Regions from separate parts of the Homo sapiens genome. Here region 1 is linked to region 2. The links come from fine-mapping of genetic effects on plasma protein levels. A gene starts in region 2. The other region holds a variant in brackets. All regions are shown on one strand. Distances are between the middles of the regions. Region 1 has its middle 21 kb from the start of SEMA3C. Region 2 holds the start of SEMA3C (semaphorin 3C).

Region 1 (8,877 bases), 22 kb after region 2:
TTGACTATCGGGTAAAAAGGCTGTCTTCTGACTGTTCTGTATTCAGTCCTGAGAAATGGAGTAGGCCGCTCCTTCCCTCTACCTGCTTTAAATGCATTTCCCACCTTTTGTAGTGGCTGGTGCTTCCAGGCCTGGACCTTGCTGTGGTTTTGCAGTACATATTGACTCTCTTCTCACCAGCTGCTGCCTTCTCTTCATGTCCCCTGGGCCACAGATTTTCCTATCCTGTTGGAACAGTACCACTTTACCATCTGCTTTCTGCCTTCTAGAAACATGTTAAAAGCTTGGGAATAGCCCCATTCTACTCACTTCATTGTTGCAAATTCATACTCTTTACAAAACTCTTTAATATTGCTTTAATATACAGTTAAGTAGATAAAGATATAAATTCAAATGTTCCATCACTATTTTGAACAAAGCCTTCCCTTCTCCCCTTCAATTAGCACTTGATTCCCACTGCCCTCCTCCCTACTGTATTTTGTTTGAAATTACTGTTGCTCTATCCCACCTCAACATTGGTAAACATTTTGTTTTGCATTGGGAAGATTTGCTCACCAGGAAAAACATAATGCTCATATAATTGCTCCCCAAAGACCACGCTTATTAGACTCTGGCTGGGCTAAGAATTCACTACATGTGAGAAACTAGACAATTCTAAAAACGAAATACATTATATGTGATATGGAAAAGACTGGCTATCTTCCCTCATTTAACTTCTGGCCTTAATTTCTCATCTGTAGAATTAAAGAAAAAAAATTATACATAAACCGTGTGTTAAAGTTTGTCCCTCAATTTTTTTTTTTTTTTTTTTTGAGATAGAGTCTCACTCTGTCGCCCAGGCTGGAGCTCAGTAGCGCGATCTCGGCTCACTGCAACCTCTGCCTGCCAGGTTCAAGCAATTCTCCTGCCGCAGCCTCTCGAGCAGCTGGGACCACAGTCATGCACCACCATGCCTGGCTAATTTTTTGTATTTTTAGTACAGATGGGGTTTCACCATGCTGATCAGGCTGGTCTCGAACTCCTGACCTCGTGATCCGCCTGCCTCGGCTTCCCAATGTGCTGGGATTAGAGGCGTGAGCCACCGCATCCAGCCATTGTCTTTCAAAATTTTAAATAACCTCTCATTAGTATAATCAGATAACAATATTACGTATTTTATATTTTTAGATATTTTATAGAGGGCATTTTCAAGGCATTCTATAAAATATTTGCAGAAATTGTTTTGGTCTAGGGATGAAAAAGAATATTTTGGAATTTGCCCTCATGATTTTTCCCATTTAATGCCACTTATGAGCTTTATTATATATTATATGTTTTTACTTAATAATATATAATAAATAATATACATATTAAACATTTTCTTATAAATTTTTATGCATTCAGGAGTCTTGAACACTATGAGTCTTCATCCTCTTGTAAGTCACTACATCTTCTTGTAAGGATTGTTTTTATCAACAGACAGTATAATTACCTTTTCATATGGAGTGGATCGTTGACTTCAATGACATTTTAATGGATCTTAAGTGGATCCTGACCCTGACCTTATCTTATTTGTGTGTGACTTTCCATAAACCATTAGGCGTATGTTCTTTATTCACTTAAGTTGTGTGAAACAAACCTGGTACATTACTCACTTGCCTTTTATTCCTTTTGTTATGTGATAAAACAATATTTGTAAATCGCTCTAACTCATGTATTAATAACATGATTAGGTAGTTATTTTTAATTATAGACTAAAAAATTGGGTAAGCCAAGTTTGGATCAGTGCTTTTGAGCTTAACACTCAAAATGATGCCATTTCCAATGTCAGGAATGGCCTCTGTCTAATGTATGGTCATTTCAGTGATGTCTAGGACACCTTGTCTTTCTCCACTGAAGGTATTTATAGAATTTCCTTATACGACTAACTGGTCTGTTGGAACTACTTATTGTAAAAACCTAGCCATCTTTATTTCTGCATGTAACATAAAAAATTAAAAGCAAATACATTAAAGAAGATAATTTATAATCATGTATTTTGGTTATAATTAATGTAATTTTATACAAATTATAAATAGATACTTTCCTTAAACCAAAAGATTTCTTTAATTTTTCTTCTCAGAGGAACCAGTATTATCTTCTCTAAAACAGTTTTCTACTTGATTAAACTAAAATCTGGTAAAACCACCTTTTATCTCTAAATAATCTGCAATATTTAGAATTCTAGAATTAGAAAGGATCTTTAAGATGATTTTGTCTAATTTATTCATTATACCTATAGAAACTGAGGCTCAGAATAGTTGGTGATTGTTAGGGAATCAAAATTAATAGGCAGCAGAATCTCAAAGAGAACCGGTACCTGTTGGTCACCAGACCAGGGCTCTTTCAGTTGTTACTTTATGTCCACCACACTTCTATACCTTAGAGAATCAGATTGCCATTCTTCATTGGTTCAGAGAACTGATATGAATGAGTACATGTAGCAAAAGCTATTGTCATTTATCATTGTACAGGAATTTGTGAAGTCCTGGCATTATAGAATGAGAAGCATCTAGGAGGCTAGCTAATCTAATGCATCTGTACCCTAATACTGTGTATGTAATGTATATTACATAGGCATATGTATATGATTAGCTAATCTAATGCATCTGTACCCTAATACTGTGTATGTTATGTATATTACATAGGCATATGTATATTACATATAAATTACATATGTTATGTATATGTAATTACATACATAATTACATTATGTATATTACATATGTTATGTATATTACATATGTATATGTGTGTACCTATGTAATATACATATATTACACATATATATATCTCTGTATGACTTTTTTATTCCCGTTTGTATACCATATATATTTTTTAATCTTGACTTTTTCATTAAATTCAAACTATAGAGTGCTTATCATGTAAAAGATGCTTGGCACTTTACATATATTACCTAATTTCATTTTCACAATAATCCTGAGAAGTTTTCTTATGCCCAATTATACACCGTGAAACAATGTTAAGAAAAAGTTTCTGAAAGAGTGAACATTTCACTTCATATCCCACAGAGCGAGGATTCAAATTCAAGTCTGTCTTTCTCCACAATAGCTTGTATTGTTAACCATAATTTTCTCTGGCTTTTCACACTACTGTTCTTCAAAACTGCCATGCTTGTTCTCACTTTAGAGTCTTCAACCTAACGAGTCTATCTAGGAATGCTCTGCCTTCCATCCTGCCATGATTCACACCTTCTACAAATTGAGATCGCAGCTGACATATCAGTTCTTCAGAGAGTTGTTTCTTGTTCATTTTTTTATTCATCATCTATCTATATTACCTATTATCTATCTATCTATCTATCTATCTATCTATCTATCTTCTACTGTCCTTTCTCTCTACTAGAATGCAAATTTCATAAATGTGTTTCCTTTACCACTATAATATCCATTAGTCCAATACCTGGCATGGATTAGCTCTTGAAAAGTATGACTTGAATTAATTAATTGATTTACACAATTTACATACAGACTGTCCAGCATTTTCTACTTTGTTATCATCTTATCATAGGTGTCAACAATTTAAAAAAAAATAATTTTTTCAGTTATAGCATATTATTTAGTTCAGGGGATGCATTATAATTTATTTAATCTTGCTCTATTTCTAAATTTTTAAAATATTTGCTTTCAACTTTTTGTTACTCTACGTTAAAGTTTCTCAACTGTGCACTACTGACATGTTGGTCCAAAACGTTTTTGTTGTTGAAGGGGGGTGTGAGACTATTCTGTGCACTGTGGGTTGTATAGCAACATTTCTAGTCTTTTTTTTTTTTTTTCGAGACAGAGTCTCGCACTGTCGCCCAGGCTCGAGTGCAGTGGGCCGATCTCGGCTCACTGCAAGCTCCGCCTCCCGGGTTCACGCCATTCTCCTGCCTCAGCCTCCCGAGTAGCTGGGACTACAGGCACCCGCCACCACGCCAGGCTAATTTTTTTTTTTTTGTATTTTTAGTAGAGACGGGGTTTCACCGTGTTAGCCAGGATGGTCCCAATCTCCTGACCTCGTGATCCGCCCACCTCGGCCTCCCAAAGTGCTGGGATTACAGGCGTGAGCCGCCGCGCCCGGCCAACATTTCTAGTCTTTATGCACTAGCTGCTAGTAACTTCCCATCCCTGAGCTGTGAAAACAAAAAATGTCTCTAGATATGGCCAAATGTCCATTAGGGAACAAAATCACCCCCAGTTGGGGACCACATCTCTAAATTATGCTGCAATAAATACCTTTAGGTGTAAGGTTCTTTCCATATTTAAAGGTATTTCTAAGGGTTAAAATCTCAGACTCATTTTATAGATGGAAAATCAGAGGCTTAAAGAGTAAATTACTTTGCCTAAGGCTATACACTTGTGAGGTAGAAAAGTTGGAATTTTATCCTCAGTCAGTATGAAGTCAGGGCCTTGTGTTTCAGCACTATGTTTCAGGACCCCTAAATAAAGGTCCCATATACTATGGTGCCAGACAATAGTATCTCAATTCTTGATTCCCCCTTTACCCTATTTCCCCTCCTTTCTTTAAGGATTTCTTTGCTCCATCCTGCCTTCCAGTAACCTTTCATTTTTATCTCTCTTGGAGATTCATCTTTTCCCTGTCTCCTCATTTTACTCACCCCTCCCTTTGTTGTAGGTTTAGTACAAGCTGACCCTGAGCCAAGGATGTATGTGTAACCAATTTATTAAGGAAATTCCTCTAGGGCATGCAGGTTAGGGAGTTGGAAAAAGCAGAAGAAAGAAGGGAAGTAAGCCAAGCAATAGTGCAGGTGCAGAGGCATGCATCCTGTAGAGAAGAACTTTAGCCTGACTTTTCAGGGAGCTCTGGAGTGTGTGTCACACCTTAGAGTTGCCCCAACTAGAGGCAAGAGAGCTGTTTTCATAGCATCATACACTCTTGTGTCATTGTTATAGGATAGGAGAGAGAATATACACGAAACATTTAACATCCCTCCCTCCACACACAGAAATAACAAAAAAGGATAATAAGGGATTTGTGAAGAGCTCCCATATTGCTCACCACATACTTCTCAGTTATTGTGTTATCGCCACCATGAAATTTGCCATCTGCTGTTTTCTGTTGCTGTAACTGCTCTGCTAGGTCCCAGCTAATAAATAAGGAACACTGAAGCTGAATATAAATAATGGTTCTGGGAACCAAAGTTCTGAGACAGTCTCCTTATAGACCTCTTCGGTTTTTAACCCAAAAGGAAAAAAATGCAGGGTGCTCATGTGTGTGGAAATTCATTAACACTTTAAGAGATCTCTGGATCAAAAGTAACCTCTTAGGGAATGTGCATTTCAAGGCCCTGTCTTACCCCAAACTGGAATTTTTGGCCCGAGGAAAATAGCAAATTATCTCACTTAGGGACAGCTGGTGTCCTCACGGAGGTTTAAATTTAACTTAGCAGCTAGAAGCTAGTCATCTTTAGATTCAGAAATACGAATTCATTGCAATAAGGAGTTCACCAAGGGCAGGCCGAAAGGACAAAGCAAAGACAAGTACAGTCTTATTTCAGTGCCATAAAGGAATTGTCATATGA[G/C]CCTTGACACACAAATTCCACAACTGAAGATCATGCAACTATTGCCCAATAAATTTAAACAGAGTGATTGCACTTAGCCTTAATTGTCCAGTTTCTGTTTTTGAAAAAAAGGCAATGAGTAACACAATGTTTCATAACCAGGAAAGAAGTTTTTGAATTTCTTTATATCACAGATAGTGAACACAATCTAAAAATAAATATTAAATAATCAAAATCCCAATGTAAAATATATATCTATCTGTATATATTATCACATGGAGGGAAAATTTGCACCACTAATATAAATGCTATTTATTAGGCATTGCTTTTCTATAGATTTTCATCCACTCTTTCATTCTTCTGCTCTATTCCTTGGTCACCTTCCTTCCATCTCTTTTCTTTCCCCTTTTTTCCATCTTCAATTTAGTGTTTGTTTCTTAAGAAACAAGTTTACATATTTCTTAGTTCTCTGTCAACAGAACCTTTCTCACTTTTCAACTGCAAAAATCAAGGTATTTTTCTAAAGAATCCATCAAAATAGGAGTTCTAATGTCCACTGATTAAATAATAATTCTTCGCAAGGTGCTTCAAATGCATTGACATATTTGAGAAAGCTATTGCAGACAGATAGCAAATTTATTCCCCTCTTAATATGTTAGTACTAACAAACAACTCAAGTCAGTTTGTACAATCAGATTGCTATTTAGAAGTTTCAGTTCTAACTAAAAGGCTGTTTTTCATCTTCACCAAACACTGGCTAGTCAGCAACTCCTGCCAGCATTCTCATAGCTGCCCCAGACAGCCAGTTGCAGGAACTCTGGCTGAGTCATGTCTCTGCTCAGCTACTCAGTAATGAAATATCCCTAGGGACATTCCTAAGACATGTCAGAGATGTGTTTCTAGTCTCCACCTATTTCTTTGTCGTGCCCCAAGCTGTGCCCACATTAGTGGAATTTCCAGTGCATTGCCATGCTCAGTAGGCCAAAGAGAAAAGTCTGCAGAATTGCTACTTAATATTACTTAATAAATCAGTAACAGAAGCAATGAATGGAATGGAATGCAAAATTCTTGGCTCTTAGCCTTAGATAGAACCACTTCCTTCCTATGAGCAAATAGTGGTTCATAGGTTAGCTTGGGGAGGGCTACTTCAAAGGGATAGTGTCTAAGTAGTCAATTTTGCTTGAATAAATTATGGAAAATACAGTTTTCAAGAGGAGAGGCTATGCTACTTTTTTCCCTTTTGGAATACTGGGTATATCCTAGGTAATAGAGAGTCAGTGAACAAATCTTTGCTGATGCTAATAGTTAAACAAAATGATTCAAATAGTTACTGAGCAAACATTTGCTGATTAAATAACATAATGATTCATATATGAAATGCGTTAGTTAGGTTCTACATATACTGTATCATTTCCTTTCAACCAGTATTTTCTATTTGTCCCAGAATAGCCTCCAAAAGAAAATTGCTGCTGGCAATTTAAAAAGACAACCATCTAAAAAAAAGTAACAAGTTGACCGGGCGCCGTGGCTCACGCCTGTAATCCCAGCACTTTGAGAGGCCGAGGCGGGCAGATCACGAGGTCAGGAGATCGAGACCATCCTGGCTAACGCTGTGAAACCCTGTCTCTACTAAAAAAATATAAAAAATTAGCCAGAGCGAGACTCTGTCTCAAAAAAAAAAAAAAGTAACAGACGGTAGAGGCAGTCAAATGTAGAGAACGCAGAAGCAACTCTTCTTTTAGTCCCTATTTATTAATAACCCTTTCTGGACCAAAACAAAAGAACAGTAATGGACAAATTTTCTTGCAGATTCAAGAAAACTGCTTCATATCACTATTATCTAATTATCTTCATCAAGTTGCCACACTACTGTTCTAAAATGTCTCTTTGATCCAAGCACTCCATGTGCTCCCCACTGTCAATGTCCCAATGCTACAGAATCTGCTTCCTTCCAACCTTTTACCTGCTACCCACTGGGTTGATGCTCCTGGACTCATGACCAGATCTTATCTTCACATATGGCAAACATCGCTGTTGGATAAACACTTTCTGCAGAGATTTCCTTTTGAGACATGTATCTAGGTGGCCATGGGTTGCAAAAATTGGTGAAAAAGTTAAAATCTATTTGCTCTACTAACTGTGGTCAATTGCTGATGTAATAAATAACATAATGATTCATATATGAAATGTGTTAATTAGGTTCTACAATACTGTATCATATCCTTTGAACGAATATTCTTTTTTAGTCCCAGGATAGCCTCCAAAAGAAAATTGCTGCTGGCAATTTGAAATAACAGGCATCTTAGAAAAATAACAAGTTAATAAATATAATAAAGAGATGGTAGAGGCAGTCAATGTAGAGAATGCAGAAGCAACTCTCCTTTTAGTCCGTATTTTATTAATAGTCCCTTCTGGACCAAAACAAAAGAACAGTAATGGACAAATTTGCTTGCAGATTCAAGAAAAGTTAATTAATCCTTAATCCTTAATTTAGTTCATGCTTCAAAATACCGACAATGTTTCTTTTCAAAAAAAAAAAACCAATCTGAACAATCTGAGTATTCCACTTCCCTATTTAAATCTTGCACAGTTCCCTATTTTACAGAGGATAAAAGGTAAACTTACCATGGTAAAATGGCTTTCCAATGGGACCTTAACCAGTCCCTTCCTCTGCCTGTCTCATTATGGGATCCAGTCTCGATGGGCTCTAAATCACTCATTGTTCTCAACACGTGGCTCCCTCTCAAGCATCTATGTCTTTGCATTTGCTCTTCCCTTTACCTAGTATAACTTTCTCTCACGCACTGCCACTTTTTCTCAGTTGCAGGATTTGTCTGAATGGGGACTATGAAGATATTTTTATTTTACTTGTTTTGTATAGTCCACTGAACTCTGAGCTCTTTGAAGACAAAAATCATAATTTATTTATTTTGTTAACATTGAATGTAAAGTGTAAGCAAAAGTCATTGAGGACCCTAAGCAAATTGGCATCAAGGAGGAAACAGAATGGACACTTAAGAAAGAGCATTACAGGACCTTACAACTGCTAGTTAAGTATTGGCTAGAGTATTAAAGAGAAACATGTCCTGCTACCCCAGCTTACCAAATGGGCATCACTTTTTCAGTCTGCTGAGATGCGATGACAGTCGCAGACCCACCTGGGGATATCCTGGCTATTAATTATACTTAGTGCAGAGTTCAAAAAGGACTCAGAACCATCAGGCGATTAAAGGATGTAGATTATGGATATAATTTTAGAAGAAAACAAAGCCACTTGAGTCATTCTCCTAATAAAGCAAATTCTGTTAGAAGGGGTAACACATTAAGCAGCATGT
Region 2 (8,877 bases):
TTGATGTTGAGAATAAACTACTTTGGAGGAAACTTAAAAACCTACTTGGTACAATAGTCAATGAGTCATCATTTGACTAATGAGAAACTTTAAATAATAATAAATTTGAACAGGCATTTCAAGCAGGTACACTGTGAAATCTCCTAAGAAAACTGTATTGAACCAAGGTTTAAAATTTGTACATTTTGACAACTGTTTTCGCCTGATACTTTCCCTATAACTTGTCTATGTAGTTCATTGTAGGAATGTTTAAAATTATTGAGTTACCAATCGTGCAATTTTATTAGATGTATTCTCACTGTTGATACATCTCTTTTAAACAGTATTCAAAACAAGTGATTTTCTATCTCTCTGATTATTTGCTCTGTTTTTCTCTCACTTCCTAAGAGTACCAGTAATACACCTGAGAAGAACAAAATATCAGGAATTATAGAACTTTGAGATCAACAACTCATGTCATATTCTACATAAGTTACAAATCAAGGCAAGTCTTATTCTGCAAGAATCTGTTTTAAGTTTGAGTGCATTTAAAATATTAGGCATATATTATTTTAAATCCCATCATTACTTCTAGTCACTGTATAGCATAGCTGTCACTGTCTTACACAGTTCTGAAGTCTGGTTCTAAAAGATTATACTATGTAATTTCCTTCTGTAAAATATGAATTGCAATTGCTTTTTCAAATACAGAATTGGTTCATTATCTCTAGTAACACACTTTTTGTTGATATTTACATTAGTTTGGATTAATTTTCATGTAATGGAAAAGAAAGCAGGTAGAGACATCTAATCTATTAGGTCACTCCATCTCTATATATACTAGGAGAAATATAGAAAATAGAGGGGAAATTGCACTACTTCTTAATGCCCTTTCTCTTTTATTTGAAAACGTATTTCATAGTTCTAACTTGGGAGGAAAAGTGTGGGTAGTCTGTAAGATGCTTTAGTAATTAAGGGGCTAAAAAGGATACCTCAAAGGGTCTGTTTTTCCATTCTTCACAACTTAACTGCATAGCTATGGGTTTTAAGGGGAAATGCCTTGCATGGAGGCTAAGGAAGCAATTAGAAGCTCACACATTCTAAGTTCCAAATATGGCTCCTTCGGTGCTTATGACAACCTTGGGGAAAGCACTGGTGACTTAAAAAGAAAAAAAGGACAGCCATTTGACTGGCAAGTGTCAGTCATTCTGCTATTTGAAATTTGAGGCCAGGCGTGGTGGCTCACCTCGGGAGGCGGAGGCGGGCAGATCACAAGGTCAGGAGATCGAGACCATCCTGGCCAACATGGTGAAACTCCGTCTCTACTAAAAATACAAAAATTAGCTCGGTGTGGTGGCACGCACCTGTAATCCCAGCTACTGGGTAGGCTGAGGAAGGAGAATGGCTTGAACCTGGGAGGTGGAGACTGCAGTGAGCCGAGATCGTGTCACTGCACTCCAACCTGGTGACAGCGTGAGACACTGTCTCAAAAAAAAAAAAAAAAAAAGGAATTTGAGACAAAGTTTCAGAGACACTCTGCTATAGAAAGGTCTGAGAATATATTGTTTATCAAATGAAAGAAAAAGTACTTGCAATGACACTAAAGTTTATGCAGAGTTGAAAGAAGTAATAAAATTATAAATGACCTTGATTGGCAGGATGGTGTTCCTCATCCATGTCTTGCTCCATCTGTCCAATTAGTATGGGTTACTTGACTAACCAAATTCATTCATCTGTAAGTCCTTTGAACTATATACATTAAAGCTCATGCAAACCATTCCCTCAGAAGACCTTGCACCTTTTATGTATGTGAAAATCTGAAATCACACCCATTTCCCTAAGCTTCTGAGAACATTTGTATACAACAACCATCAAAAGCATATTTCCAATTATTCTTTTAGGTCCTTTTCAATTAATTAGGGGACTATGCCAATCTCAGGAAATCCTTGTGGAAAAAGAAGAAACACCATTAGAACAACACACGGAGTAACCAGTTTTGAGACTAATGCCCAAAAAATTAATTGGGAGAATTTTTTAGTAATTGAACCTGCATAGCTCTCTCTGCTGCTGAGGATTAGCACAAAGGGGCAATTTCTTAACATTACCAGGTGAACAGTAAGATCAAAGATGCTAGGCTTTGAGCTCGTGCCCATCTCCTCTGTGAGTACACAGGCAAGCACAGAAGAATTATTTTACAAAAAGCAGCATATATTATAAGCATTTTCATAAATACCTCAAATCCAACAGAGGATCTTTGTCTATTAACCAATCATTTAAAATAGCTATTGTCCTCCAAAACGCAGCCCAGTAAATATTTTTAAAATTAATATCCAGTAATATTTATACTCTTAATTTCTGAATCTGGATAAGGAAGATAACAAAACTTAAAATAACATTTTTCCCAGAGTGTTTATCAACTCTCTTACCATCAAATGTTAAATAAACTCTTGCTTGGGGCTGGGAAGATCCTTTCACACAGATAGAACAAATAAATACTCCAACCAACACGCAAATTGTCCGGAATGCCATTTCTTCAGATATGCAAGTTAATATCCAAGGGAAAATACCTTTAAGAGAGAGACAACATGTTTGTTATATCTCATTTCACATTTTAGGAGTAGGAAAAAACAGCAATCTAGACAAAACACCCTATTCACAAAAGAACCATCTGAACTTTTACAGTAATGCAAACAGTAGGAGGTGCTGTGTCTTTGCTTCTCAGATGTGAAAATGTGGATTTGATTCATTTGTGTCTGGAAGTCTTTGCAACAAGAGAAACTTTCATCTTCCAGCAAATTGATGCTACCATCAAAACAGAACAAAGCAGTGAAGAAAAACACTGATACCCAAAGGAAAGCCCAATATTTTAACGGATCTTCTCTCTAGAAATCCATTACATTAAAAAGACTTGAATAGAATTGAGCTAAAAGAATATTACTGGATGAGAACTCTTTCCCCCCACTAACGTAACAGCAGCAGCAAAATCTCACATGAGCATTCATGTGTACCTACTCACTTCAATAGTCATTAGCTCTTTTGGAGTAATTGTCTCTGGAAGTGGTGTTTCCTTACATAAATCTATGTGTGCTCAATCCTGGATCACTGAAGTCACTGGAATCAGTTATCTGCCATTTTATCCAGATGACCAACAGGCAGTTGTTAAATGATGCAGTTGAAGTAACCATGGACTAGTGCCAAATTCAAACCAATGACCTAGTGGTGAGCAATCCAGTGAGCCATGTATCCACCAATGCATATTTTAAATAAATCAACCAGAATGTGGGCTGTCAAAATTCCCAAAGATAAATCAAAGAGACAGGTGTCACTGCTTCAAACTATAGATATAAAATTGGTACATGCTATTAACTAATATCTGAATCCCAAGGAAGACCAGATAATGTGTTACCATAAACCTACAGGAGCTCTAGTGGCTACATCATGTAAAATAAACTCAGGACCATTAAAGAAACACAATCATTTTGCTTCTACCATAATTACACAATAAAGTGACCCAAGAGTCCAGTAAAGAAATTTATTTTTACAGGTTACAACAATGCTGATCTTCATTATTTGGCTTTTCAAATTAAAATTTCATAGTCAAAATTATTAAATTCTTTGTAAGAACCACTAACAACTGAAAAAGACAGCTTCATTAATACAGAATAAAAAGAATTAAATGGAATATGCAATTTTAAACAAAAATTGTAAGTAGATTTCCTAGGTGGTGCATATGTTATGAGAGTTAGAAATGAAATTGTACGCTTCTTTTACCACACAGATGGAGGAAACTCTAGAGATGTTTGTGTTGGTAATTTTCAAAAGAAACAGTTTCTTCCTGCTTCCACAACCTCTTCACCCTGTCATCCCTAAATTAACTTAGAAAGAAACTGATTTTATGGGTGACTTTCCCTCAGTAATTTACCCCTTGGTTCTGTTGACTTCATAGTTAAAGCCAAAAGAAAAAAACTATTAATATGCCTAACCTTTGTTATGTTTACTGAGCAAGTTGATATTATTTACACATTTTTTTTACATATTGGTATCTTACCTTATATGTTTCTCCCAAAAGTACATATACAACCAATTGCAAAGAATACTGGTGATACAATGGCAGGTGAAACGAAGATAGTCTACAGGGCAATTTGATTTACATCCCACCTAGTGATGAGGAGTGAAAGACTGAAAGCCAAGTGTCTTAAATACACCCCCGCCTCCCCAACAGTATCTTACAACTTCTTCCCTTTAACTCAGACACAGACGTTCCTCTTGGTGTTTTCACTTCTGCTGATCGCAAACTAACAACACATTAAGAAAAGAATTCTCTTATCTCCTCTGGAGCAATTTTGCCTTTGAAGGCACTGTAATACTCAACTTGAAACTCTCCGCAGGTGTCACCGCCTAAAGAAACAACTCGAGCAGGGCTCTCAGCAAGGGGAAAGCTTCCCTGACAAACCGCGTGTGTTCTTAAGAAAATGTCCAGGCTTGAGCATACCAATGTATGAAAAATCAATATACAGGCCAAAAAAGTTATACTTTGCTAAATCTGTAATGCGGAAAATGACCAATTTAGCTTACCGAGGTTGAAAGAAATCAGCACGGAAAAGTCATCAGTTTGCTACCGGGGTTGGATGCGCTTGTGTCTCCAGTCCTTTTCCCAGACGACCTTATTTTCTAGCACGTCGCAAAGGTGAAATTCTTTCTTCCCGGTCCTCTGAGTTTCTTTGTAAAGGAATCTCAGCGCTGCAGTGCCGCGGCACCCGGAGCTCTTCTCCGCGTCGCTCAATCAAGCACCTCGGAGTGAATGGAAAGTGGCCGGAGGCCGGGGGCGAGCGCTCTTGGTGTCCGATTACAGCGCCGCGGCGCGCGGCTCCGGCTGCCCCGGCGCGCCGCCCTGCAGGCTCGCATCACCACCGCGCAGCCCCGGCCGCATCTCCGCCAGCCGCGAGGCCCCACCCCGAGCGCGCCCGCGAGAGCCTGGCAGGGAGCCGCGGGGGCGGACCGGGCGGGGCCGACCCTTAGAGCTCGCGGCTGGCCAGACGCAAGAATGCGCGGCCGCAGGCTGGAGCCCTAGCTCCGCAACCCTGCTCCTTTCGCAGTCCGCGGCGGAGTGAGCAACTTGCTGGGTGCGCTCCACGGTTTTTGTTGCCGGCGGCTCTCGAAGACTTACACAGGCTTTGCCTGGCCGTAAATATCAAAGTGCAAAGCAGTTGTGGTTTTTTATTTTTGCCAGGGAAGGATCACTGCAGCCTTTTAAGGCAAAGAGATGCGTTTTTAAAAGGACGTGAGTTTTGTCCTTATTCTGCTGCGTTTTTTTTTTGTTTTTTGTTTTTTGTTTTTTGTTTTGTTTTTGGAGAGGGAATCTCACTCTGTCGCCAGGCTGGAGTGCAGTGCAGTGGTGTGATCATGGCTCACTGCAACCTCCGCCTCCCGGGTTCAAGCGATTCTCCTGCCTCAGCCTCCTGAATAGCTGGGACTACAGGCTCCCACCACCACGCCCAGCTAATTTTTGTATTTTTAGTAGAGACAGGGCCAGGATGGTCTGGATCTCTTGACCTAATGGTCCGCCCGCCTCAGCCGCCCAAAGTGCCGAGAGCCACCGCGCCGGGCCTCTGTTGCGTGTTTTCTAAAACAGGTCAAGATAAACGACAATCTTGTTGCACAAGTGTATCCTTTTAATGGGTATTGTTTCCTATTGAGTTTCCTTAATGCCCTGAAAGCAGTAATTCTGTTGACCCCTCCACGTTGACTCATATCCAGTACGTTGTCCCCAACCATACTCCCAAACATAATTACACGAAGAAATTATTTGACAATTCTATGTGGAGAGGCTGTTCTGAGTTATGCCAACAGATTGCCATAACCACACATCTACAGAAATACATCAGAGGTATTTTTCCAGCATTACTTTCAGGTACACTCGTTAAACTCTGGAACTGACTTTGATGTTTAAGTGAAAATTACTTCTCCGGACCACAATAAACTAGATGTTTAAACATCGGGAGAAATGAGCTTTGATCCCCATAAAACAAGCAGGCACTTGCTTAAAATCACTGTGGGGCACAGCCCAGCAGATGTCACTCTACAGAAGGAACGTGGAGTGTAATATCTCCACCTTATACCTGACAATTCACATAATGAAACAATCATTAAATTCTTATAAACTGTATCATAGAAAACCCCTCTGGGGGTGCAAAATCATTGTTCAGTGGGAAAGTTGAATGAAATCTCAGGTAGGAGGAAGAGGTGAGTGAGACACATCTTTCATGTGTCTGGGGCCCACCTCTTGTGTTCAGTAAACATACACGTGTCTCAGACTCACGCTGCATAGTCAAGGAACGAAGGATCAAGTCAAATAATGCAAATTTATGAGTTCAAAAATACTATTCCAGGGCTAATATTATCTCCAAACGTCAAAAAATTAATATAGTAACAACAGTTAAAATTATTTTTTGTGATGATGCGTGAGAAGATCCTTGACATAAATTTGTAATAAGGAATTTAACCCCCCAAAAACTGACAATATTAAAATCCAGATGTCAATGTGAATAAGCACTGTGCGTGCTTCTCTGAAATACTTCTGAAACTGAGTAAGATCCAGGTTATATACTCTCCACTATTATCCTCCTTCTGATATCTCATTCGGCATTTATATATTAAGCAGGGAGAAGAATAAATCATTAGAAAGATGAGTGTGTGGATTAAATTAATTTAGAAATGTGGAGCTGTTAGAAATTGATCAGCAAATTCACGTAAGATGGAATTCGTTTATACATTTTAAGTTTGAGAAAACCACGATAAAGAGTTGCAAGATGAAATGCATCTCAAACGGTGTATTTACAAAGGAGCTTAATTCCAAACTCAATTTACAAACACCAATGAATTAGCTCAATCTGTTACACATTCAGGGGTTTGGAGGCCTTGACAAATAGCTTAGATTTAATCACAGCCCATGAAATTTGTGCCGAAATTCCCTCAATATTGCTCAAATAAACCTCTTTTCAATGTGCTCCTGGGATTTAATGGTATTTGCTTAGCTCTGAGACGTTTACAGTTGGCCACACCTCAAAATGAATCATAAAAATACTGATAGGCTTTAGCCAAGATAGATTCAAGCGCAAGGACACAGTGCTCATGCTTGCCAGAGACTTAGGCCACAGAGTGGAATTTTAACAGTGGCACTAGAAGCCCCTAAGATTAATCTCTGCCCACATTTCCCCACACTGCTTAAAACACCTTGACAAAACAAGACTTGCCTAAGAAACATTTCTGGGCACTACCACTTTTTTAAGACTTCAGCTTTGACTGTCCTTACAAGTGGAAAACAACAGCTAATTGAGAACGCTGTTTTCGGTAAGGGGGACACTAAATGGATCTACAGGAGTAGTGGCACAACTAAATTTAGAGAGCACTAATTACAATGTTTGCACCCAGCAAAACGTTTCAGACGAGCGGCCAAACTAAAATACTTAGGATAACTTTTATTAAGACGTTTTAGAAATGGTGCAGTATCTTACACACTGAAGTGTCTCTGCCTGCCAAGGTGTAGTGGGCATATTTTTAATATTTTATGTTTTTGATGGTCCTGAGGAATGCTATTTAACTTAAAACTCTAGCACCGATGTTGAGTTACATACTTTTCTCCAGGAGTTTCTGCAGCTATACATTATCTTATTTCAAATTTAAAGAAAACAGATTTTTCCCTATTATACAGATGAGTCATGTAAATAAACTTTACCCTAACCAGAGAATATTAATCATTCAGAGGTTAAAAATTGTCTTATTATTTAGTCATAAAAACTGATATTTGTAATAGAAAATAGATTGTGTATTTGCGAGGTACTTTGCTTATTATCTGCATAGCATTCTTTAATGAAGTTACAATTTTCAATGAGAGAACGTTGAAGGTTTGCCCAAAGTCAAATGGGTAGTAAATATCAGAATAGGAAGAGAAACTCAAGCGTGATTGCCGTAATGTCTCAGGTTTTTCAATAAGTTTCAATACTTCCTCTTACCTTTTTTGCTTAACATTTTTCTCCTCTTTTCTACTTCCCTCTCTTTCTCCTTCACTCAACTTCCATATGCCATCCTTTTAAGTTTCCTGAACTGTATCTTTGGAAAGTCTCAACTTCCAATGGTTACTTACTTTATTTACATCAGCCTTACGTCTCCTTGGGTTACATTAGCAGCTCTGAGACCAAGCCGGTCAAACAGGTCTGGTCTAGAAATCTGTGTGTGAAACTGCTACCTGCACAGCAAATAGGCTTTAATATTTCCTCTATCAAATCATTTCTAATTTTTCAATAAGATGAGTGTATCTCTATTTTCATTCTTAATCTATTGCTAATCTGTATTGCTGACTGTTTTTTCTCTGTTGATATGTACCACTCTATGCTTCTCAAATTGTAGGGTTCTTGACATTAAACAAAATAAACTGGCAACAGTGGTTTGCTCTGGAGAGGAAAATTGGCTAGAAAGGTTTCATGGTTCACTCTGTTTTACATTTATAATTTTAAACGAGGTGAGTGTATAAGCTATTACAAAGTTCAAAGTTTAAGTCCTCAGTATTTCCTTAAACACCTTTAAACATATCAAGTATGTTAAGCGCAATATTTCGCAACTCAACCAAAATAAAAGCATATTGCCTCTAATGTTTATATATTACAATATTTCATGTAAAAGTAGAATAGTAAAGAATTTCAGTAGTAAGAATCCCTTAGTGAATTTACTTCCTTAGTACAAAAATGTCATGTGTGCATGACAAAGGTTGTAATAGAGTTATTATGATCATTCACATTTTCATCACAAGGACAAAATGTAAACTTTCTATTTGTTTTGCCTTCTTGGAATATTTCATGTGAAGCCTCAGTGAGGACAGAGTATATGTATTTGAGATTATAT

Evidence for each region. A credible set is the group of variants that fine-mapping cannot tell apart. PIP is the chance, under the fine-mapping model, that this variant and not a neighbour inherited with it causes the effect. Protein levels are from the aptamer-based SomaScan assay of Sun 2018.
Region 1: its variant is the best candidate, but not a certain one, in a credible set for the plasma level of the SEMA3C protein (Sun 2018, PIP 0.52).

The regions. Positions count from the first base shown.
Region 1 is chr7:80,935,992-80,944,868 of GRCh38, forward strand. No RefSeq gene overlaps it. Among named protein-coding and RNA genes, the nearest start is that of SEMA3C, 21 kb to the left of the region's middle. The variant G/C (reference allele first, on the strand shown) is at 5,564.
Region 2 is chr7:80,914,274-80,923,150 of GRCh38, forward strand. It overlaps SEMA3C (semaphorin 3C), which reads right to left and starts at 4,778. Exons shown (of 18, transcript NM_006379.5): 1 at 4,555-4,778; 2 at 2,406-2,546. The coding sequence starts at 2,508. RefSeq lists an enhancer at 4,298-4,367 and a silencer at 4,915-5,044.